Homo sapiens: one gene and its partner. The protein of the gene in region 1 binds, or shares a complex with, the protein of each later gene. Each region holds a gene or a part of one and is shown in the gene's direction. Other genes may lie near its edges.

Region 1 (12,895 bases):
TATCTTGATTGTGGTGGTTTACTGCACTTCAGTTATACCCCAATAAGATTAAAAAAAAAAAGAAGAAGAAATAAGTGCAAAGGAGTAAATATATAAAAATCCACTCATTTACCCAGAAACGAAACATAATCATACACCCATGTTGGTCACCATTGAAACTTCCTTAGGGCACAACTCATTTCCTTAAAAATTGTTAAAGGATCAAGCATTTATCCTGCCTTTTCTTTATGAACTGTATTTCAAGGTAAACAAACAGCTGATGAGACAATGCCTTTTTTAATAGGTGGATTCCAGGTAATAAATGCAGAGAGAAATGATAAAAACAGAAAATCGCCACTGTGCAAGTACTAGTGAAGTAATGGACCTGGGCAATTATCACTAGGTGCTAAAGCCGTCATGTGAAAGGTTGATGAGGAATCAGGGTGATACTATTTTCGCCAACTTGTCAATCTTAGAACAGTAGAATATTCAGACATTATGATGTAATGAAATAGGAAGTAAACTGAACCTGAATCTAATCAAGCCACTAGATCAGAGCAGTCCAGTATATATACATACATATACAAGCTACAAGCTGCATATGTAATTTAAAATTTTCTAATAACCACATTTAAAAAGGTAAAAAGAAACTGTTGAAATAAATTTTAATATCTTTCATTGAACCCAATATATGCAAAATACTATCATTTCAATTATAACCAAATTAAAATTAAGGAGATATTTTACAATTTTCATATTAACGTTTCCAATTCTGGTGTGAATTTTACACTCACCGAACATCTCAATTCTGACAAGTCATATTTTAAGTGCTCAACAGCTACGTGAGGATAGTGGCTATTATGTCACAAAATGCAGCTCTAGGGATGAGGACAGTTTACAGAAGATACTTGAGGATACAGGAGCAAGTTAAATGGCAGTTTAAGAAAGCAAATCCAGGATGTGGGAAACTCCACAGAATAGATGACCTGGTTTCTCCCTTCACTCATCCCTCCAAAATAGAAATCAATGGCAGAAAGAAAAAAGAGGGAGGCTGTTGTAGCATAAAATACTTAAGGGACATAACAATAAAAACAGTGTAGGGTTTTGTTTGAATCCTGATTCAACTACCAATGATCAAAAAACATCCGAGACAACTGGGGACATCTCACTGCAGATTCAGTATTTAACGATATTAAGGAATTATTGTTAGTTTTGTTGGATGACATAAATACTGAAATATTTAGGGAGAAAAAACAACTTGCATTTGATTAAAAAAAAAAGATGTAGGAATAGACTGATCATGACTTGATATTGGTGAAGCTGAGTTATGAGTACATGAAGCTCTTCATACTGTTTTATATATAAAATACATAGTTTGACAATTCTCATAAAGTTTTTTTAAAAAGTACTCACTGGCTGTGCACAGTGGCTCACATCTGGAATCCCAACACTTTCAGAGGCCAAGGTGGGAGGACTGCTTGAGGCCAGGAGTTTGAAACCAGCCTGGGCAACATACTATGAGACACCCGTCTCTACAAAACATTTTTAAAATTAGCCCGATATGGTGGTGTGTACCTGTACTTCTAGCTATTCAGGAGGCTGAGGTGGGAGGAATGCTTGAGGCCAGGAGTTCGAGGTTACCATAAGCTGCTAAGCACCAGTGCACTCCAGCCTGGGTGAGAAAATGAGACCCCATCTCTAAAAGGTAAAGAAACTATTTTTTTAAAAAGCATCCACTTGATCTAGAATACTAAATAAAGGGCAAGTTCCTCTGAAGTTCCATGATTTGCCCTCCTATGTTACACAGATCAGATGAGAATCACACTATGCATAATGTTAGTATGGCCACTGCAATCAGGCAAATAGGATTTTTTCTCTTTTTTTTTTTGAGATGGAGTCAAGCTCTGTCGCCCAGGCTGGAGTGCAGTGGCACAGTCTCGGCTCACTGCAACCTCCACCTCCCAGGTTCAAGCCATTCTCTTGTCTCAGCCTCCCAACTAGCTGGGATTACAGGCGCCTGCCACCAGGCATGGCTAAATTTTGTATTTTTAGTAGAGATGGGGTTTCGCCATGTTGGTGAAGCTGGTCTCGAACTCTTGACCTCAGGTGATCTGCCAGCCTCCGCCTCCCAAAGTGGGATTAGAGGCGTGAGCCACCACGCCCGGCCAGGATTTTTTTCTTAAAAATATCTAGAAGACCTTGCTAGAAGTGTTGGTAGTAAACAAAACCCTTTAAGCTACTAACGTTCTCCTGTGTTTTCTTATTTCCTTTCTCTAATATTCATTTCCTAATATAATGAAATGTAAATTAGATTTTTATTTCCTCTTTTCACTTTGGAAGGCTGTCAAACAGCTTACCCCAACTAACCTGCAAATAAAACTCATTTTATCCTAGCAAATTTGAGGTAAAGTATATACTAACATGGTAAATTATACATGTATTGTCTTCATAATATCATAGTTGCCCATTCAAACACTCTAGCAACTATTACTTCCTGTCTTGAAAGAAATAAAAATAATTGGTCCTCCTTTCTTATTTTCTCTGAAAAGCTTCCCCAAACTCTCCCAATCCAACTTAATGCGAGTAGACTATTTTTCCACTTTGTTCCACTCATTTCGCACTCCTGATAGAATTTTCTCTTATCCCTCTAATCTCTTATTTAGGCTTATGTACCCTCTCCAGAAGTTCTGTGTTGTGTCACTTACTTCCCCACAGAGATCTCTATCTCAAGGAGACCAATTCAAATGATATTCAAATATATACCTCCAGTCCTGGTCTCTCTCCAAAACCCTATTAAAACTACCCAGTGGACATTTTCCTACAGACATACTAGCATCCCTTCACATTGTCTCAAGCCAAATTAATGTTATCACTATATCAAAACCTCTGAACGTCCCTGTTTTTTTCACCCTGACATGCAAATTAAACATCTCTTTTGACTTCCTTTCCCTTGTTTTCCTTAATTAATGAAGGCCTGTCCATTTTTTCCTTAACATGTTCGTACCTTTCCATTCCTCTGCCACTGCCTGAGTTGAGGTTCTTTTCATCTTTACAACCAGATAACTAACATAATTTCCTAATTTACTTTCTCACTGTCTATCTTCTTTCCCTATACTATTATAGTACTCTGCCAACCACTGCCAAATTAATTTTCCTAAACTATCATTCTACTTATCCAATCACCTTGTTCAACAGGGTTTTAAAAATGAAATCAAAACTCCTCTGCTTGATATTCAAGGCCCCTCATGTTCTCAAATCAATGTATATTCCCAGTCTTATCTCTTGTAGTCCCTAAATGAAACAGTTCCTCTTGCTCAATTTATGCTCCTAAAAACAAACAAACTTGGCACCATTAACAACACAATTTCCTTAACTCAGAATATTCTCTTGTATATAAATAAGCCTTCCTGAAAGTCAGAAATAGGATCTCCCTTTCTTGAACTTTTATAACACTTAATTGTATATATCATTCATTTTAAGTTAACGACCTCCTCACCTATACTGTAACTCTTTAATGGGTACCTGTTCTCTTTCCCTACACCGAAAATTCCTTGAGAGCAAAATCATGTCTAATTTAATTTCAAGCATCTATTGGGTATCTGGCCCCACAATGCCAAGAGTATATTTTGTTGATTGTTAATTAATCATCTTACTTTATTTAATACAAGTAATAGCTTTTCCTTGTTCTACTATAAACAGATCTGTACACTTTCTGGTGGCTGTATGCACCAGTCTAAACATATGGGTAGGGTCCAGTAATTTTTAAATTTTTTCTCAATAAACTCACGATAGCTACCATTTATTAGTGATAGCTAGCTAACCACTGTTAGGCACTTTACACGTGTATCTCATTGAATCCTCATATCCACCAGTGGTAGGCACTATTATCTCCATTTTACGGAAGAGAAAACTACTACATCTTGGAGATTAAATGTCTCTCCCTTCTCATGTTATTATCTGCCCTTTCCCCTCCAAATCAATTCATATCATTTTTTCTAAACCTTTTCACCTTTTACTCAACTAATCATTCGTTTTGTTTATTAACGACTATGTGCCAGGTGTTGTGCTGATGCAGGAGACAACCGCGAAGATGGGGACAGAATCAGTAACATCGACGTAAGGGAATTGAAGCAGAAGATCACGCTGCCTGCAGACACCAGGAAACGCCAAGACCCCCCTTCCACGAACCAACATTCTTCCACCCTCTCCAACTTTTTTCTGGAACCCCTTCACTTCCAACGCCACTCAATGTACACTTCACTTTCTCGTGCTCTTCCTAAGAGAGTAGTGTTTTCTTCCTCCCCACCGAGAAAAAAAATAAAAGCAACAACTGGAACTTCTTCCTTACCCTGCCTTGTCTGCAGACCCTGGAGGCCCCTTCCATTTCCCCTTGTCCTTTTCCTTGTCTTTTTTGGTTCCCGCCGCAGTGGTCGAGTCGCCCTCGAACACGCTGAACAGCTCATCTCCGAATGCGTCCGCCATTTTTGGGAGCAGTGAGAGCAAATCTCCCTCCTACCCACGATGCCCCGCGACCGAAGACAGTGACGTCTCGTGAAGGCTCAACAGTGGCCCGCAGGAGACAAAAGTAGTCGAGTCGCGCAGCCGACAAAAATGTTCCCCTGACTTTTTTTTTTTTTCCTGCTTTTCTTTCCTTTCCTTTCCGACCTAAAGTGGATAAGCTGCTCAGTGGATAAAGAGCGAGGGCGGCGCGTGGCGCCTGGCGTGTGGCAGGCAGCTGGCGACTCAAGGAGGCGGAGCCTGCTGAATTCGACCAATTGCGAGGCAGCGGTCGCCCCGGCCCGAGAAGCCCGGATCGAAGCGCAGGGTGGCAGCCCCGGAGCCGGGGAATGTGAAGAGCTCTCGGCTGTGCAGTGGTACCGTCGGGGCCTGGGCCGCGAAGGATCTTCTGCCACAGCTGCAACATGGGCGGCAAGAACAAGAAACACAAGGCTCCAGCGGCCGCGGTGGTCCGGGCCGCCGTGTCTGCTTCCAGAGCCAAATCTGCCGAGGCTGGAATTGCCGGGGAGGCCCAAAGCAAGAAGCCAGTGTCCAGGCCGGCCACCGCTGCCGCTGCCGCTGCCGGCTCCAGGGAGCCCCGTGTCAAGCAAGGTACGAGAGGTCCCCCAGCCCCTGGCTGTCTGCCCTGAGACCTTGCTGCTTGTCCTGAGGAAAGGGCCTTAGAACCCGGGAGGAGCTTCGGGCCCAACATTTCTATTTCCCAACACTCGAGCTGCTACCTCCCCATGGGGTGGCCTTGTTTTAGATTAAAAAAGTCTAAGCTCTTTGGGCCTCCAAAATTCTGACAGTAGCCCTGTTGCAGCCTGGCATTTCTCTTTTAACTCACACTTCTCCCCCTTCTAAAAACAAAATAATTGCATTAGCTCCTGTTTCAGCAGGAATTCATCCTGAGCACCATCTCAGCTAGCTAGGCTAACGCAAAGACGAGTACTGAGTGGAGTTCCTGACCTCCTGGTGCCAGCCAGCCCCATTTTCTGTCAGTTTTTCATATCATTTTCAGCAACAATCTAGTGTCTCCATGCGTTCTGGAAAAATCAATACTTAATAAAAATTACAGGACTTACACACTGGTTACACACTGGTTACGTGTAATCTATTGTAAAATTGTCTGCCCTCGTTTCTGCCGCCATGCAGTTTTGCTTACTGTACAAATTGATTTGACAACTCAACTTATAGATGGCCGATTCCTGCTGCAGATGAGCAGGCCACATATTACGGTTGAGCTCAAAAGATGAACAATTACATTCTGTTGTGTTCTTCTCGGGTTGTTTGCTTGTACTTATTGGAGTATTCAAGAAATATTTGCTGAGCATTTATGTGTATATATGCAAATATTTAGTATGTGTCTGATAAGATGTGAGGAATGTGATGAGCAAAAAGAGACATCACCTCATGGAGCTTGCCAGTCTAATGTCAGAGATAGGTATTAACTAATAGGTAACGCACACAGACATATTTATAGCCTTATAATAGATAAGTGCCACAAAGAAAAGCCAGGGAAGACAGTTTAACAGGGTAATCTAATTTTTCTCGGGATGAGCAGGTATCATGGATGGTGTCTGGAAATGTAACAGTTAAGCTGAGATGAGGAGAATGAAAAAGGAGTTAACTCTGTGAAGCATGGCAGAAATTAGTATTCCAGGCGGGCGTAATGAACATCATGTGTAAAAAGTTTGAGTCAGGAAAGAGCTTGGGGCTCTTGAGGAATTCACAGAACATAAAGCATCGCCAAAGGATGAAATGAGATGAGACTGAAAAAGTAGGCAGGTACCAGACCTTTACCTAGAAGGTGGAAACAGTTCTTTGCCCTGCGATTTATTGTAGTGTTAGCTACAGAGTTAGCATACTTGTAATTACAAATACATAGAATTTCTCCCTGACAACTATGGCAGTTTTATTCTGTGGATCAGCCTCTTTTTTACTTTTCCTTTGTCTTTTACTGACATTCCTCTGAATTTGAACCGATAGTCATTTGTTGTATTCTTTGAATTCCCTTTCCTCCAGCCCCAAACTGTGACCCTTTCTCAAGGTGTCAATCCTTGACAGTATAGTTCACTCCTAAAGCCCTTCTAGGAGTGTTCATCTATTTCCATTACTTCTATCTTTTCCTTTGTAGATGGCCTCTCTTCCAAGCTCAAGTTGGCAATTTATACATTTTGCTGGATTCTCTGACCCTATTTTTTGCAAGCATCTCAAATTTAACAGGGCTAGTACTAAACCACTCTTCTTTCCCCAAACTAACTTTTTCTTCGACTTCCTTGTTTCTGTTTTTCCATATTTCACTTTGCATTTGTGTAGTTCACATCCTAGTCTTGGTACCTGTGAATTCCTGGAGTAGCAACGAAGTCTTTTAATAGGGCTCCACAGCTGTGCTCATTTTGCTTCCTCCAGTTGGTCTTGCATATCAACATCAGACTGATCTTCCAGAAATGCTGCTTTGGTCGTAACACTTCCTATTTTCTTCCATGGCATCCTCACTGACTTTGCAATAAAATCCAAATCATTTAGCTAGCTTCTAAAACCCTCTTTCTAACCTTTTAATAATTCCTCTATTCAACTATAGCAAGTCTGGTGTGTTTTCATTTCTCCAAATGGAGCTCTTAGCTTTCTCCTTCCTCGTATTTATTCTTGCCATGTTTTTCTTCATGGAGTGCAATCTGTCCCTAACATCATCTACCAAAACCTTAAAATACCCATTTCAGATAACAACTTCCTTTTGAATTCTTCCTGCTATTCACAACTGACGTATCATAGTTGTTTAAATCATTCTTTTTGATAGTTAGTTCTTGCCTTATGATATGTAAAGAATTATATGTTTTATATATCCAACAAAATTACAGGAGGTAGGAACAGTTTTATGGATATGTGTTAACATTTCCCCAGTATCTACTCTAGTGCTGTGCATATTGTCATGAAGAAAATTACTTGGATAACTGGTAAGGAAAGTTCAAAGGAATTATTAAGACCAAGAAATCAAGAGAAAAAAACTAGAGGTTATCTACTAAATTTGCACATAACTTTTGGGTTTATTTTAGGGTGCTTTTAATATATAGTATAACGTACAATAAACCTATTTTGGAGAAAAAAGTGGAAAAATGCTCAACTCTGTGTAGTTCCTAATGTAGATGTAATGGTTCTACTCTACTTCCGTCCCTCCTTATCTTTCCAATTTGACGGCACAGCTGGTCAAAATTGTCCTCTATCGTAGAGGTTCAGAATCACCAAATGGCTTGCACAACAAGTAATACCAGTCTTGTTTTTTTTTTAATTTCATTTGCTCATGAAAGAATTTCTGAAGAGGCCGAATAGGGAGGAGGGTGGGGAGAGGTTCAGTATTAAATAGGATGGTCAGGGAAGGAAGGCATCATATAAGAAGGTGGCTAGGCGCAGTGGCTCACGCTTGTAATCCCAGCACTTTGGGAGGCCGAGGCAGGCGGATCACGAGGTCAGGAGATTGAGACCACGGTGAAACCCCGTCTCTACTAAAAATATAAAAAATTAGCTGGGCATAGTGGCGAGCGCCTGTAGTCCCAGCTACTCGGAGAGGCTGAGGCAGGAGAATGGCGTGAACCCGGGAGGCGGAGCTTGCAGTGAGCTGAGATTGTGCCACTGCACTCCAGCCTGGGTGACAGCAAGACTCGGTCTCAAAAAAAAAAAAAAAAAAAAAAGTGACATTTGAGCAAGCAAAGGAGGCAGGTAAAGTAGTTACACAGATGACTGGGTAAAGAGTCTCCTGGGGAGAGGGAACAGAAAGGCCTTGAGATGCAAGCCTGGAGTGTTCTAGAAATAGCAAGACCTTTCCCCATCTTTCTTTTACTGTCCTTCTCTTTGCCTTTCTTTTCTTTTCTTTCTTCTTTCCATTCCTGTGCTTTAGAAGTGCCACTTCCTTAGCCTAAGTATAATTAAGCTGCTTTATCATGTTATGACTGAGACCAAAATAAGAGGTTCAGTAATTTAAGTTTTCTCTTCCAACCAAGAGGCTTGTGTTTCTGAAAATCCTTGAACCTAGTTGAGGCTTAAAATTTTAAGAGGGGAATAAGAATTGGGAATGGATGTCATAAATTTATGAAAGCCATTATAAATTTTTTTTTAGGGTCACTAAAATAGAAAAAGTGCTATGAGGAACAGAAAATAGTGACTTGGTAAACATTAAATGGAGAATGGAGGGTCTATTTTGGTTTGAAATAGGAATAGCTTCCCTTAGAAAACATTTAAACTGAGATGATCTGCAGAGTATTTGTGGCAGAGGGAAAAACAAGCCTAAAAACCCTAAGGTGGAAACAAGTTTGACATGTTGTAAGAAGATAGTGCTGTGTGGCTGGAGCGAAGAAAGAAAAAGTTAAAATGTGGCTGGAAGTCTGGGAAGGAGCCAGAGCAAGTTCAATGGGAAGTGGGGGCCGGTGTTGGTATTAAGTAGAGGAGAAACTTTAGCTGGTTTACATTTCAAAATAATTAGTCAGGCGGCCCTGGCAGTGTGTACTTCCTCACAGGCCTTAATTGCTCAGACTACATCAATTCACCCTCATCTATTTTCTTGGCACTCTGCACTTCCCCTTTATTACTCATCTGAGTATTAGTTGCTTACTAATTATATTACTGTTCCAGAATATAAGCTCCATGAGGACAGGCACTGGGTCTGTTTACCACCAGAGTCCCTGTTTGGGTCCCTTGCCTGATTAACCATTCTGCAGATGTACACACTGTCGATCAGAAGGGAATCAGAGTGCTAACAACTCAAAGTCAATGTCTTAGTCATAGTGGGTCATTAGCATTGCTTTTTCCTTTAAAATACAGTATAAAAAGAATATGTAGCAAAAGAAAAGATTATTGGGCAATAAGAAACTGATTCTGGTTGATTTTTTTTTTTTAATTAGCTGAGTCATTTTGAGGAAATCAGTTTGTCTGTGCTTCAACTTTAATGTAATAAATATTTTTGAGAGCCAGCTATATATGTTGCATCGTTCCATGACCTTTCATTTATAAATTTGGAATTCATAATACTTTGCCTTGGAGATATTGCATACTAACATCCTTACTTCCAGTCAGATTTCCAGTAACTTCCACCATCTTAAACACAAAACCAAAAATTGTAAAAGTCTCCAGGCAATAAGGAAAGTAGCTGTCATAAATCTTATGCACTTTACTTGGCAAAAGTGAACGTGGCCCAGTGAATGTTGAGCAGGATTCCTTGATTTCTCTGATCATTTTTCAGAAACTCAGCTCTTTTGTTTACCCTCTGGAAGTTTGCAGTATAAGCCAACTTCAAGGAAGTGATACAGTTGAAACTCTTAGGTGAAATGTTTGGAGGAGACAAATGAGAATTTTACTTTAATCTTTTCAACTGGGTAAATTAAAAACCAACCAGTTTTTTTTTTTTTTTTTTTTGATAGGGTCACTCTGTCGCCCAGTGGCTCACTACAATCTCTGCCTCCCAGGCTCAAGCAATCCTCCCATCTCAGCCTCCCAAGTAGCTGGGATTACAGGCACAAGCCACCACACCTAGCTAATATTTTGTATTTTTTGTAGAGATGGGGTTTCACCATGTTGCCCCGGCTGGCATTTTTAAAGGAATTTACAGTCTTACTCTTGTCAGTAGCATATGAACTTTGAACTGTTTCTCCATGTAGTCTTGGTAATGTACTGCTCATCTATCTGTAACTTTTTAAAAGGGTTATAGCTGGGGCCTCTTGATGTGTTTGGGGACCTCTAAAACTGCATGCTAAATTTGTGCACAAGCTTACTATAATTGATAAGACTCCCCAGAAATAGTTAAAGACTACTAAATATATACTCTCCTTTATGACCATTGACATGAATTTATAGGAGAGATTACTAGAATTAAGGTAAAGTTTGAGACTAGACGATAAGGAAACTAACAATACTATACCAGACTTGTTATTATCTTTTTACATATGCCATGTAGCTTTGGGTACCTCCGATATAACTATAGCATAGCAGTAATTGACAGAGAACCACAAATGTTTCTCTTTCAGACTGCCCAGATGTACAAGTTAATTTCAAGTAGTTATTCTCAAAAACTTTTGTTCTTTTAAAATATCTAATTATATTAGCTACCATCTTAAAATGAAGAACCTAATGTAACCCAGCAGAGAGCAAAGTCTTTGACTTTAAAATCATAAGAACATTTAATGTTTAAATGTCTCAAAGTAGAAAAAATACTTCTTATTTTAAGGTGTATAAAAACCATGCAACTAGATTTATGATTCTGGAATCATTCTTGTTTTTTTTTTTTTTTTTTTTTTTGAGATGGAGTTTCACTCTTGTTGCCCAGGCTGGAGTGCAATGGCGAAATCTCGGCTCACTGCAACCTCCGCCTTCTGAGTTCAAGCGATTCTCCTGCCTCAGCCTCCCGAGTAGCTGGGATTACAGGCATGCACCACCACGCCTGGCTAATTTTGTATTTTTAGTAGAGATGGGGTTTCTCCATGTTGGTCAGGCTGGTCTTGAACTCCTGACCTCAGGTGATCCACCTGCCTTGGCCTCCCAAAGTGTTGGGATTACAGGCGTGAGCCACCACGCCTGGCCTGGGATCATTCTTATACAGCAGTGTTTCTCAAAGTGTGCTCAGGAGGTCCTAAGGAACCTGAGACTTGTTTGCCAAGGGCTCCATGAAGTGAAAACTTTTCATAATAATTCTGAGATGTTTTTGCCATTTTTCACGCTCATTTTCTCATGATTATGCAGTGAGGTTGTCCAGTTGGCTACATGATGTGTAATGTTACGGCAGATTGAATGCAGAAGCTAGATGTTACGAACTGAATGTTTGTGTCCTCAAAAAATTAGTATGTTGAGACCCTTACCCCCAGTGTGGCTATATTTGGAGATAAGGGCTCTAAGGAAGTACATAAGGTTAAATGAGATCACAGGGATGGGGCCCTGATCCAACAGGATTAGTGTCCTTATAAAATGAGATACCCAAGAGAGCTCAGTTTCTCTGAGTAAGCACAGAGAAAAAAGCCATGTGAACATATAGCAAGATGATGGCCACCTACATGCCAAGAGAAGAGGCCTCAGAATGAAACCTCCCTTGCTGGTACCCTAATCTTGGACTTCCCAACCTCCAGAACTATGAGAAATAAATTTCTGATGGTGAAGCCATCCAGCAGTCTGTGGTATTTTGTTGTGGCAGTCTGAGCAGACTAAGATACCAGATATTAAAGAGATTTGCAAAAACGGATATTATTTTTTGTCTTGAAAAATATAGTCACATTTCATCTTAAGCATCATTTATATTAATGGAACAGGTTTATTTTTATTATTTTGTTGAGGTCCTTTTGTTTTTTTGAGACAGAGTCTCGCTCTGTCTCCCAGGCCAGAGTGCAGTGGTGCAGTCTCGGCTCACTGCAACCTCTGCCTCCTGGGTTAAAGCAGTTCTCCTGCCTCAGCTTCCCAAGTAGCTGGGATTACAGGCATGCATCACCAGGCCCAGCTAATTTTTGTATTTTTACTAGAAATGGGGTTTTGCCATATTGGCCAGGCTGGTCTCAAACTCCTGACCTCATGTGATCTGCCCGCCTCCGCGTCCCAAGTGCTGGGATTACAGGCATGAGCCACCACACCTGGCCTATTATTATTATTATTAGAGACAGGGTCTCACTCTGTTGCCCAGGCTGGAGTGCAGTGTTGCAGTCACAGCTCACTGTAGCTACTACTGCAGCCTTGAACTCCTGGGTTCAAGCAGTTTTCCTGCCTCAGCCTCTTGAGTACCTGGGACTTCAGACATGTGCTACCACAGCTGGATAATTTTTGTAGAGGCAAAGTCTCACTATATTGCCCAGACTGCTCTCAAACTCCTGGGCTCAAGAGATCCTCCTACCTCAGCCTCCCAAAGTGCTGGGATTACAGGCATGAGCCACTGCGCCTGGCCAGATTTATTATTTTTGGTGAATGAATGTTTTAAAATTTCCCTTTTAATTTATAATATACTAAGTATCAATAGACATAACCCACATAAACAAAAACTATTTGGATCCTCAGTAATTTTTAAGAGAGTAAGGGGTCATGAGACCAAAAGTTTGAAAATAATGTGTGTTGTTTCCTGGTTACTCATTGTTAAAGGACTGAGACTAGACAGCGTTTCTGTTCACTGGAACAGACTTGGCAACTGTAGTGGGTTGAGTGAGTAGTGTCCCCCCAAATATTCATGTCCACCTGGAACCTCAGAATGTGACCTTGTTTGGAAATAAGCTCTACAGATCTGTGGATCTTGAGATGAAATTATACTAGATTTAGGGTGATTCCTAAATCCAATAATGAATGTCAAGAGAAAGGAGAGGGACATTTGGACACAGAGAAAGGGAAGAAGGCCGTGTGAATGAGGAGGCAGAGACTGGTGTTATGCTGCCACCAGAAGCTGGAAGGGGGAAGGAACGATTCT
Region 2 (12,613 bases), on another chromosome or scaffold:
AGCCTTGGTGTTCCTTTTTTTATAAGGACACCAGTCATGTTGCATTAGAGCCCCACTCTAACAGCCTCATTTTAATTCAATCACCTCTTTAAAGACTTTATCTTCAAATACTGTTACATTCTCAGGTACTGGGGGTTGGGACTTCAACATAAGGATTTGGGGAAGGTAACAATTCAGCCCATAACAGCTGGTTCAGGGGCTATCCACTTGGATTTAGGTACTCGAGATAAGATGGCGACCTTCAAGGTCTACTTGGCATTATGCTGAGGCAAGGTAGGAATGTTAACTGTATTTGCTTTCTACCATTTTTGTAACAAATTACTACAATTTAGTGGCTTAAAACAACACAAATTTGTTATCTTACACTTCTGGAGATCAGAAGTCCAATACAGGTCTCACTGAGCTAAAATCAAGGTGTCAGCAAGGCTGCTACGTTCCTTTCCAGAGGCCCTAGGGAAGAATTGTTTCCTTGCCTCTTCCAGTTTCTAAAGGCTGCCTCCATTCCTTGACTTATGGCCCATTCCTTCATCTTCAAAACCAGCAACAGTGGGTCAAGTCCTCTCCATATGCATCTTTTTGCCCCTCCTCTTCTGCCTCTTCCACTTTTAAGGACTCGTGTGATTAGATTTCACCTACGCACGTAATCTAGGATAATCTCTCCATCTCAAGGTCAACAGATTAGCAACATTAATTGCATCTGCAACTTTTATTCCCTGTTGCCATGTGAGATAACATAATTCACGGATTCCAGGGATTTGGACATGGACATCTTTGAAGTTCATTAGTCTGCCTACCATGATTATAGAAACACCTGGCTTCTCAGACAGACTGACACAGAGTAGCAGTATTGGCCATGGTCAGGCTTCTGCAGCTTTATATTAATGTACCCTGAATTCATAAAATTGACACACTAAAAAAAAGCTAGGTAAAGGAAGTGCAGGATGCTGTAGGAATATGTAGCAGGGTTGCCTAGGGATTAGAGCAGACCTTCTAAGGAAACAATTATTAATCTGAGACCTAAAAGGGCAAGGGAGAAGGGTAGAATAGAATGTATAGAAATTCGGAATTAGAGGCACTCAAAAGTTCTGTATGACTAGAACTTAAAAAGTAAGAGAAGAAGAAATAATGTGAGGCTCAAGAGATAAGCAGGAGCCAGATCATCAAAGGCATAATAAATCATATTAAGGAATTTGAATTTTATACCTCTGGGGTTTTCCCCCACAGTCCCCAGTCTTTATTTCCTTTTTTATCCAGACTGAACCTCATGGCCCCATAGTTGATAATCTGAACTTCTCTCTTAGAAGCACCCGCAACTTCCTTATATTTTTCCCTTATTCTGCACCCACTGAGCAAAAAAAAAAAAAAAAAAAAAAAACTCCAATCCTGGATCATTTTGGTTAATGATTGTATGCAGTCAGCTATTGTATGGAAGAAATGTAACCACCCAGTGGATTCACCTTGCTCTGTGGAGACAGAGCCAATTTATCAAGACAGGAGAATTGCAGTAGAGAAAGAGTAATTCATGCAGAGCCAGCTGTATAGGAGACTGGAGTTTTATTATTACTCAAATCAGTCTCCCTAAGCATTCAGGAATCAGAGTTTTAAAGGATAATTTGGTGGGGGGTCGGGGGGCGGTGAGTCAAGAATGCTGATTGGCCAGGTCAGAGATGAAATCATAGGGGATTGAAGCTGTCCTCTTGCAATGAGTCAGTTCCTGGGTGGGGGCCACAAGCTCATATTAGCCAGTTTATTGATCTGGGTGGTGCCAACTGATCCATCAAGTGCAGGGTCTGCAAAATATATCAAGCACTGATCTTAGGCTTTATGATAGCGATGTTATCCCCAGGAGCAATTTGGAGAGAGTCAGAATCTTGTAGCCTCCAGCTGCATGACTCCTAAACCATAATTTCTAATCTTTTGGCTAATTTGTTAGTCCCACAAAGGCAGTCTAGTCCCCAGGCAAGAAGGGGATTCATTTTGGGAAAGGGCTGTTATCATTTTTGTTTTAAACTGTAAACTAAATTTCTCCTAAAGTTAGTCCAGCCTACACCCAGGAATGAACAAGGACAGCTTGGAGGTTAGAAACAAGATGGAGTTGGCCAGGCACGGTGGCTCACGCCTGTAATCCCAGCACTTTGGGAGGCCGAGGTGGGCGGATCACGAGGTCAGGAAATCATAGACCATCCTGGCTAACATGGTGAAACCTCGTCTCCACTAAAAATACAAAAAATTAGCCGGGCATGGTGGCGGGCACCTGTAGTCCCAGCTACTCAGGAGGCTGAGGCAGGAGAATGGCGTGAACCCGGGAGGCGGAGCTTGCAGTGAGCCGAGATCTCACCACTGCGCTCCAGCCTGGGCGACAGAGTGAGACTCCGTCTCAAAAAAAAAAAAAAAGAAACAAGATGGAGTTGGAGTTGGTTAGGTCAGATCTCATTGTCTCAGTTACAATTTTGCAATGGTGGTTTCGAAAACCATATAATTATGCAAACTGATACCACTGCAAATTTATATTTTCTAACCTCAGCTAAACCCTCAGTACCATTTGTCATTTGATCCGTCTCCTATTTCTTTAATAGTTTTATTGAGATATAGTTTACACGCCATACAGTTCACCATTTAAAGTGTACAATCTAGGCCGGGCATGGTGGCTCATGCCTGTAATCCCAGCACTTTGGGAGGCCGAGGCAGGTGGATCACCTGAGGTCAGGAGTTCAAGACCAGCCCGGCCAACATGGCGAAACCCCGTCTCTACTAAAAATACAAAAATTAGCCGGGCATGGTGGCAGGAGCCTATAATCCCACCTACTCATGAGGCTGACGCAGGAGAATCACTTGAATCTGGGAGGCAGAGGTTGCAGTGAGCTGAGATTACGCCATTGCACTCTAGCCTAGGAGACAAGAATGAAACTCTGTCTCAAAAAAAAAAGTGTACAATTTACTGTTTTGTTTTGTTTTTATTTTTTTTGAGACAGTGTCTCACTCTTGCCCAGCCTGGAATGCAGTGGCACGATCTCAGCTCATGGGTTCCAGTGATTCTCCCTCCTCAGCCTCCCAAGTAGCTGGGACTACAGGTGCACACCACCACGTACGGCTAATTTTTGTATTTTTTAGTAGAGACGGGGTTTCACCATATTGGCCAGGCTGGTCTCGAACTCCTGACCTTGTGATCCACCCGCCTCGGCCTCCCAGAGTGCTGGGATTACAGGTGTGAGCCACCGCACCCAGCAATTTAATGTCTTTTAGTATAGTACTTACAGAGTTGTGCAACCATTATTATAATGTAATTTTAGAACATTCTCACCATCCTAAAAAGAAACTTTATACCCTAGTCCAAGCCACAACTGTCTTTCGTTCGGACTGTTACAGTAGCCTCCCGTGTGGTTTCCATTTCCACCCTTGCCCCCTACAGTCTGTTCTTAACACAGAAACCAAAATGATCTATTTAAAAACCTACTGAAAGGCCGGGCGCAGTGGCTCATGCCTGTAATCCCAGCCCTTTGGGAGGCCAAAGCGGGTGGATCACTTGAGGTCAGCAGTTCGAGAACAGCCTGGCCAACATGGCGAAACCCCGTCTCTACTAAAAATACAAAAATTAGCCAGGCACGGTAGCGCACACCTGTAGTCCCAGCTACTAAGGGAGGCTGAGGCAGGTGAATCACTTGAACCTAGGGGGCGGAGGTTGCAGTGAGCCAAGATCGCGCCACTGCACTCCAGCCTGGGCAACAGAGCGAGACTCTGTCTCAAAAAAAAAAAAAAAAAAAAAAAAAAAAACCTACTGAAGATTCAAGTGATCTGGCCTCCTTACTTCTCCAATCTCATCTCTTCAAATTCTTCCCTTGGCTCAATGCATTCTAGCCACACTGACCTTTCTTTTCTTCCTTCCTTCCTTCTTTCCTTTCCTTCATTTATGTCCTTCCCTCCTTCCTCCTTTCCTTCTTTCTTTCATGGGGTCTCACTCTGTTGCCCAGGCTGAAATGCAGTGGCACGATCATAGCTCATTGCATCCTCAAACTCCTGGGCTCTAAGGATCCTCCTGCCTCAGCCTCCCAAGTAGCTGGGACTACAGATGTGAACTACCATGCCTGGCTTTTTTTACTGTCGTGTGTTTATTATTTTAGAGATGGGGGGGTGGGTCTCGCTATGTTGCCTGGGCTGGTCTCGAACTACTGGCCTCAAGCTCGATCTTCCCATCTCAGCCTCCTGAGTCACTGGGATTACAGGTGGAAGCCACTGCACCTGGCTTCTTGCTGTTTCCTGAATATACCAAGCATGCTTCCACTCAGGGCCTTTGCCCTTGCTGTTCTCTCTGCCTAGAACACATTTCCCCCAGATGTCCACCTGACTCACTTCCTTCCAAGTGATTAAGATGATCAGTCAGATGGGGGAACCATCCTACAGTAGAGAAATGAAGCCTGATATTTTTTTTTCCTCTTTGAGGTTTTATACTGGGTAATTGACAGAAACTTTTTATTTTTAAACATTTAGAGTTCCGGACTCTTAGAGTCTAACTACTTACCATGTACTAGGCACAATTGCTAATTGAATGCATTATATCAATTTAATTCCTGCAACAACCTAATGTAAGTACTATTCTTTTTTTTTTCTTTTTTTTTGTTCGTTTGTTTGTTGGAGATGGAGTTTCACTCTTGTTGCCCAGGCTGGAGTGCAGTGGCGCGATCTTGGCTCACTGCAACCTCCGCCTCCTGGGTTCAAGTGATTCTCCTGCCTCAGTCTCCCAAGTGGCTGGGACTATAGGCGCCTGCCACCATACCCGGCTAATTTTTGAATTTTTGAGTAGAGATGGGGTTTCACCATTTTGGCCAGGCTGGTCTCGAACTCCTGACCTCAGGTGATTCGCCCACTTCGGCCTCCCAAAGTGCTGGGATTATAGGTGTGAGCCACTGCGCCTGGCCGGTTAGTACTATTCCTACATCCAATTTACAGATGAGAAAACGGAAGCTTGTAAAGAGATTAAAACTTGCCCAAGAAAATAGAGTAATAAGTTACTGCAGAGCTTGAATTTGAACCCAGGCCTCTCTAACTCCAAAGCTCAAGTTCATAATTATTTGACCTTGGAGCAAAATTTAAATAAATTTCATAAAAAATCCTTTCATCCTCAATTATGTAAATTGAAAAATATTGCAGATAGAAAGAGAAACCCAGAACTTTGAGTCCCCCATTATCTTTCAATTTCACTCTAAGAAGTGCATCTGTCATTGGGTTTCTCAATATCAGCTCTGCTGATGTTTTGGGCTGGATAATTGTTTGCTTGTATGGGGGAGGGGAGATTGTACTGTGCACTGTAGGATGTTTAGCCGCATCCCTGGCCTCTGCCCACTAGATGCCAGCATCACTGCCCCCCTCCTCAAGTTATGACAACCAGAAACATTTCTGGTTGACGCTGCCAAATGTTCACAGAAAAGAACCACTATATTAGATGATGATACTTTATTTCTGTCTTCTAAGTATGTGCAAACCCTGGTGTTTGTGGAAAGGTGATTTATTTAAAATAAGTTTACTTGGTTTAGTCAAAATAAGTTTACTTAGAAATAAATCTTGTAGAGTACAGCCCAGCATTAGCCAGCTGTATTAGTTTGCTAGGACTGTCATAACAAAGTACCACGTACTGAGTGGCTTAAACAACAGAAATTTATTTTCTCATTGTTCTGGAGACTGAAAGTCTAAAATCAAGCGTCAACAGGGTTGGCCTCTCTCCTGGGCTTATAGATGGCTACCTTCTTGTTCACGTGGTGTTCTCCCTCTATGCCTGTGGCCTAATAATATCTTCTTGTAAGGACACCAGTCAGATAAGGGTCCACACTAATGACCTCATTTCAATTTAATCACGTCTTTGAAGAACTTATGTCCAAATACAGTCACATTGAGTTACTGGGGATTAGAACGTGAACATACGAATTTTGGGGGGGACACAATTCAGCCCATTAACATTGAGCTTAAGTCTTTTCTCCCCTCCCTCCCTTCCTTTCTGTGTGTATTGAACACCTATTATGTGCCAGACATTCAGCTAAGTGGGGGTAATGGTAAGCAACAAACATGGTCTCTGCCCGGTAAGGTTTACAGTGAGGTAGGACAGACAGACTTAAAGAGTAATAACAAGTGCCATGCAAATATTATGCTTTGGTAATGGATGCCAGGAAAGCCTTGCCCTTCCCATCAGGCTCCCAACCCGGCTGGGCGAGTGAAAGGACTGCGTTATGAGCTAACCGGCTGGGCACGGTGGCTGACGCCTGTAATCCCAGCACTTTGGGAGGCCGAGGTGGGCGCGAGTTGAGGTCACGAGTTCGAGACCAGCCTGGCCAACATGGTGAAACCCCGTCTCAACTAAAAGTACTAAAATTACCTGGGCATGGTGGCACATGCCTGTAATCCCAGCTACTCGGGAGGCTGAGGCAGGAGAATCGCTTGAGCCCGGGAGGCGGAGGTTGTAGTGAGCCGTGATCGCGCCACTGCACTCCAGCCTGGGCGATAGAGCAAGACTCCATCTTAATAAAAAAATTAAAATATTGGCCGGGCGCGGTGGCTCACGCCTGTAATCCCAGCACTTTGGGAGGCCGAGACGGATGGATCACGTGGTCAGGAGTTCAAGACCAGCCTAGCCAAGATGCTGAAACCCCGTCTCTACTAAAAACACAAAAATTAGACGGGCGTGGCGGCACGTGCCTGTAATCCCGGCTACTCCGGAGGCCGAGGCAGGAGAATCGCTTGAACCCGGGCGGCAGAGGTTGCAGTGAGCCGAGATCGCGCCACTGCACTCCAGCCTGGGCGACTCTAGAGCAAGACTCCGTCTCAAAAAATAAAATAAAAATAAAAATATACATATTTTTTAAAAACTGAGCTAACCACGAGGTTAACGAGTCAGCCACTTGTGAAACCGGGAGACGCGCGTTTGCTACAAAGCAGCAGAGGTCTGGTCTTAACCAGCAGCAAGCGCCACCTCAACCCGCCCTTTTCTATGACGCAGAGTCTCTCCCCCTCCCTCCCTGACTCCGCCTTTTCCCTGCTTGAGGCCCTGCCCCTCGCGTCCTCTCTGGCTTGCTGCGCACCCTCCCACAACGCGTCTCCCTCGGCTCTAACAATAGGAGTCAGTCGGCCACGCCTGCGTCATAAAGCCTGGGGGCGGGCCCAGCCGGCGACGGGAGGCGGGGAAAAGCGACGCAAAGAGTCGCGGCGCCATTTGCTGCCGCCGAGCGTGGACGCAGGCGGATCTCTGAAGAGCTGGGTCGCCAGCCTCTCCCGCGCACGTTGCCTGGCCTCCAGCACCTACTTGGTCCCGCGCGCTCCCTCGTGTCGCCCCTCGGAGCAGCAGCCGCCGCGGTCGCCGCTACCCGGAAAGAAGTCAGAGACGCCGCGAGGTCGCCGCCACCGCCATGCCCAAGAATAAAGGTAATGCCGCCCGGACCCCCGGACCACGGCTCTGCTCGGCCGGGTCTCCCAGGTCCTGCCCGTAGATTGCAGGTCACCCAGGCCGCAGTGACCCTTTTTCCTTCCCGCCCTGCCTGCCCGCGGCTGGGCGCCCCACACGCGACTCTGAGCTCGGGAGAGGAGCTGGGAAGTTAACTCCTGTTGCCCAGTTTGGTCACATTGGGGTGGAGCCGGCGCCATTTTTGTAGGGCCTCCTGCGGGAGAATGTGGGCTTTTGCTCCTGATTCGCGCCAGACTGACCGCTGCTCGGTGGGGACGGTGGCGGGAACCTTCCCCGGGGCGGCCTAGGTTTAGTAGATAGGCCCCTTTGGCCTTCCCGGGCATGAGGGGTTATAATCCCTGGAAGCCGTTCTGAACTTTCAGAGTGCTGTCTGCATTCGTGAGCACCAGGTACTCCTGCATGGGTTTCTTTATGGACAGTTCAGTATTGTTGAGGCTACTCGCTGTCCCTTGTGAACAGTGGGTGAAACCTTGATACATTTCTAAGGCTCACCTCTAGAGATTTACTCTCTCCATCCCTTTACAGGATATAGCTTATGTTTGTTTGCTGAAGACTTATTCCATATTGAGCCAAGTTTTCTACTTTTGCTTCAGATGATGCATATGTTGTGAGAATAAAGACCTAATTTAAGTGTCCTCCATTCTGAGGCTAAGCGTTCACAAATGATCAGACTTGAGGATAACTTTATTTGGGATTTCCAAAACGGAAGGCCTAATCTTAAAAAAAAAAAAACAAAAACAAAAAACAGAACACTCCTAAAGAAATTACTTTTATAGATTTACAGTGTTCCTGTCATTTTTAATAGCCGTATAACTTGAAGAAAATTGTGCAAGTAAATATAGGGAAAATACTGTATTTTCCTACAGGAGAGGAGCATACTTCATAGTCCGTAAGTAGTCTCCTTTGATTATTCATTCTAGAGGAAACCCTCCCCTGACACAGGCCTACTTCTGCTCTCTTTTCTACTTGACAGCTGGCTCCAGGGATTCTACCACATTTCCTCTTTGTAGCTGTCACTTATTACTTTATCCCTTAGGGTACTTGGTCGAGGTGTTCTGTGCACAAGTTGGTGCAGTCACTGCTCATTATTTTGGAAAAGATGGAGTTATAAACAAAAAATTTTAAAGTCTTACAGTTTTCTTCTGTATAATCCTTTATTCTCTCTGAGGTGGTAAGGGGATCACTTCCATCTTATTCTCACCTTTATTTCTAGTAATAAGATTTCCAATTCTTCCACCAGGCTGTAAGCTCTACAAGGCAGGAATAGTATCTGTCTTAATCTCATTGGATTGCCAGCACTTGACAATTAGTAGATGCTTAATAAATATTTGTTGGTTTAAGTCACCTACCTCCTGTCGACTCCACCCTTAGTGAATAATAGGTTCTGCTTTGGTTCCAAGGGGATAGGACTTCTACACTAAATCACATCTAGTTCCCTAGCCTCATGTCTTAAGAAAGAGCCTCTCTGGGAATTTCTCCAAAACAACTCTGGTTTAAAGAATGTTGATGTCACTTTAATTGTTGTACACTCAGACCTAGTCTCATTCATTCAACAGAGAATTTAAAGAACATCCCATTACATGGCAATAAAATACAAAGGGGAGTGATCCGGGTATGGTTAATTCTGGTAAATTGACAAGTAATTAGTCTTTTCTTAAATAACATTTGAGGCATACAAAAAATACAGCTAACATGATATACCTGGGAACCCATTACTCTGAATTTAAGAATTACAGCGCAGATTGAGGTAAAGCCCTAATCACCTTTTACTCTCTTTTTGGAGGTAATCACCAGGCTGAGTTTGGTGTTTATCATTCCTGTACTGTCTGAAACCAATCAGTTCTTAGTTATCTTACTTAGAGGAATGGTACTTTTCATGACCTAATTTAAGTGTCCTCCATTTTTTTTTGCTGCTTCCAAGCTCTTCCCATGAGTCTCTTAGGGTCATTACCACTTACAGCCTTTTTCCTGCCTTTTGGAAATGGCTGCCAATGTGGTTTCCTTTCTGGAATGGGAGCAAAATGCTGTGGAGAGGTAAGCTTATGTGGGGGCTAGGGGCAAAAAAAACATTGTGACTTTGGTCACCCCAGCTTACTGACTGTAATCAGTGAACTGATTTACTCACTGAAGCTAAGCGACTTACTTAACTTCTCTGAGCTTCAGGGAACTCATGGGTAAACTGGGAATAAATGAATGTTATGACCTCATGGGGTGATTGTGACAAGTAAATGGGCAGAATTATTGCATAGTGGTTAAGAGCATGGTCACTGGGGTCATATAATAGAAACAGGGATGTTGAGTAGGGACCAGCATTATAAAAGAAAGTAAATTGGGTACCGAACAGATCTTCTTTATTTTTTAAGAGACAGTGTCTCGCTATGTTGCCCAGGCTAGCCTGGAACCTCCTGGGCTTGCTCAAGTGATCCTCCCACCTGAGCCTCCTGAGTAGCTGAGACCCTAGGCGCACACCACTGCACCCAGTGAGATTTCAATATTTATGGTACTCTGCTACCAAAAGTTTGAAAACCACAGTTCTCTGTCCAGACACTGTCTTCACTTAATTTTGAAAGTATCGGGTTCCTTGCATAGGGCCTGGCTTTAGAAGACACCCAAGATTTCCGCTTAGAAGAATATGTATAGAATTGCATTTTTATTTCAAAAGGATGGGTGCTAAAGTGAAATGTTTTTCTATATTTTTTAACATAATATCTGCTATTTATGTGTATTTTATGTCAGAAAAATCCCCAAAGGAAATTCCAAGAAGGGTAGGGAGGTGATAATGTGTTAATGTTGGGATTGGAGATTGTAAATTTAATATGATTGTGTAGCTAAAATAGATGAATTTTTTAATTTAAGTGATCTTTTAAAAAATGGTTTTATAAGCCTTAATTTCATTTTATTTCATACTGTTTTACAGATAATTAATGTCATTTACCTCCTTTTCTTTTTTTTAAACCATCAGGTAAAGGAGGTAAAAACAGACGCAGGGGTAAGAATGAGAATGAATCTGAAAAAAGAGAACTGGTATTCAAAGAGGATGGTCAGGGTAAGTGTTTTCATAAATTACGCTTTTTAAAATAACATCCTTTCTTTTTTAGCTGGGGACTTTATTTTTTTGAGACAGCGTCTTGCCCATCGCCCAGGGTGAAGTGTGGTGGCACGATTACAGCCCACTGCAGCCATGACCTCCTGGGCTGAAGCAGTCCTTCCACTTCAGCCTCCCGAGTATTTGGGACTACAGGCACACACCACCACGTCTGGCTAATTTTAAAAATTTTTTTAGGCTGGGCGCAGTGGCTCACGTCTGTAATCCCAGCACTTTGGGAGGCCAAGGCGGGCGGATCACGAGGTCAGGAGTTCGAGACCAGCCTGACCAACATGATGAAACCCCGTCTCTACTAAAATTACAAAAATTAGCTGGGTGTGGTGGCACGTGCCTGTAATCCCAGCTACTCAGGAGGCTGAGGCAGGAGAATTGTTTGAACCTGGGAGGCGGAGGTTGCAGTGAGCCGAGATCACACCACTGCACTCCAGCCTGGGTGACAGAGGGAGACTCTGTCTCAAAAAAAAAAAAAAAAAAAAAAAAAAAACTGTATAGAGATGAGGTCTTCATATGTTGCCCTGGCTATTCTCGAACTCCTGGGCTCAAGTGATTCTCCCACCATGACCTCCCAAAGTACTGGGAACTAAGAATGTGTCGTATAGTTCAGAGGGAATTGAGCTATGGTTGACAGTTCTGTGATTTAGTTGGCAGTTCTATGATTAGCATTTCTGGTAGTGAATGGTACATATAATATGTTGAGTAGACCATGGACATTTGAAGGATGAGCCTGAGGCCCTTATAGACCTCTCCATTCTCCAGTGCCATTAGCATATAACTTCGTAAACTACAATAAAATGAAACTGAACAGTTAACTGATTTTATTAGACTGAAGAATATTGTAAGTGCCAGACCAAGATACATAGCACTAGTCAAATAAATCCTAACTGGATCGTTTGCCCTTTCCTGTTACTTTTATTTCGAGTCATTTCAAACCTACAGAAAGTTGCAGTATTAGTGCAACAAACTCCCTTAAATCCTTCATCTGTACACACACATATAAAGAAATATATATGTGGGATTTTTTAATTTTTTTTTTGAGATGGAGTCTCGCTCTGTCGCCCAGGCTGGAGTGCAGTGGCGCGATCTCGGCTCACTACAAGCTCCACCTCCCGGGTTCACGCCATTCTCCTGCCTCAGCCTCCCAAGTAGCTGGGACTACAGGCACCCGCCACCATGCCTGGGTATTTTTTTTGTATTTTTAGTAGAGACGGGGTTTCACTGTGTTAGCCAGGATGGGTCTCGATCTCCTAACCTCGTGATCCACCCGTCTCGGCCTCCGAAAGTGCTGGGATTACAGGCGTGAGCCACCGCACCTAGCCCCATATGTAGGATTTCTTCAGGACCATTTGAAATTTAGAGACATCATGTTACTTTTCCCTTACTTGATCATGTATCTTCTAAGTGCAAGTATATTTTCTTATATAACTAGAAGAGAATTATCACACTCAGGTAATTTGACATTGATATAATATCTAGTATATACTCCATATTTCCTCAGGTATTCCAATTATTTCCAGTACTTTAGCTTTTAATAGAACTTTGGGTGGATTTATTACGCCATACATATAAACCAGTAAACATGAGATACGTTTTCTGGCTAAAAGTCCTTTGGTTTCTTAGCCTTGGTCATCCTTGCCTCTAAAATAGCAGCTGACTTGACTTGGGCATACACTGTTTTATTATTACTTTTTCCCTCACTTCAGAAGAAAGGCTGCCTTTGAGTTGACCAACCATGTTGAGGTGGTAGATGGGTGCTAAACTCACTGTAGTCTGAGTAATTGACTTCCACAAGTCATCCCCACTGTTGAGCCTTTCAAAATGAAGTCTCAGTATATTTACAAATTAATGGACATCCTCTCTGGGGATTAGTCATATTCTAATTCAACAAAGACATTGTTTGAAGTTTGTTTTTGTTTGCTAAATGAACTAAAAATTATGAGATTTGCACCTAAAGGTACTGAGGTAAAGGAGAGCCAAAAGTGGGGTAGTCAATCTACTTATTCAGAATGAGTCGATAATTTAAACATGTCTAATAGCAGAGACAGTATATTATAGAAATGGCATTA

Evidence for each region.
Region 2: DHX29 (region 1) and EIF1AX share a complex: the UniProt entries of both Homo sapiens proteins name them as parts of the 43S pre-initiation complex.

The regions. Positions count from the first base shown.
Region 1 is NC_000005.10:55,299,580-55,312,474, reverse strand, and holds the start of DHX29 (ATP-dependent RNA helicase DHX29), read left to right. Parts: upstream 1-4,780; 5' UTR 4,781-4,901; coding exon 4,902-5,088; intron 5,089-12,895. Other genes in the region: MTREX (exosome RNA helicase MTR4), read right to left, coding at 4,328-4,461. UniProt on the Homo sapiens protein: ATP-binding RNA helicase involved in translation initiation. Part of the 43S pre-initiation complex that is required for efficient initiation on mRNAs of higher eukaryotes with structured 5'-UTRs by promoting efficient NTPase-dependent 48S complex formation.
Region 2 is NC_000023.11:20,136,416-20,149,028, reverse strand, and holds the start of EIF1AX (eukaryotic translation initiation factor 1A, X-chromosomal), read left to right. Parts: upstream 1-7,190; 5' UTR 7,191-7,388; coding exon 7,389-7,404; intron 7,405-8,584; exon of another isoform or gene 8,585-8,694; intron 8,695-8,793; exon of another isoform or gene 8,794-9,061; intron 9,062-10,406; coding exon 10,407-10,490; intron 10,491-12,613. UniProt on the Homo sapiens protein: Component of the 43S pre-initiation complex (43S PIC), which binds to the mRNA cap-proximal region, scans mRNA 5'-untranslated region, and locates the initiation codon. This protein enhances formation of the cap-proximal complex.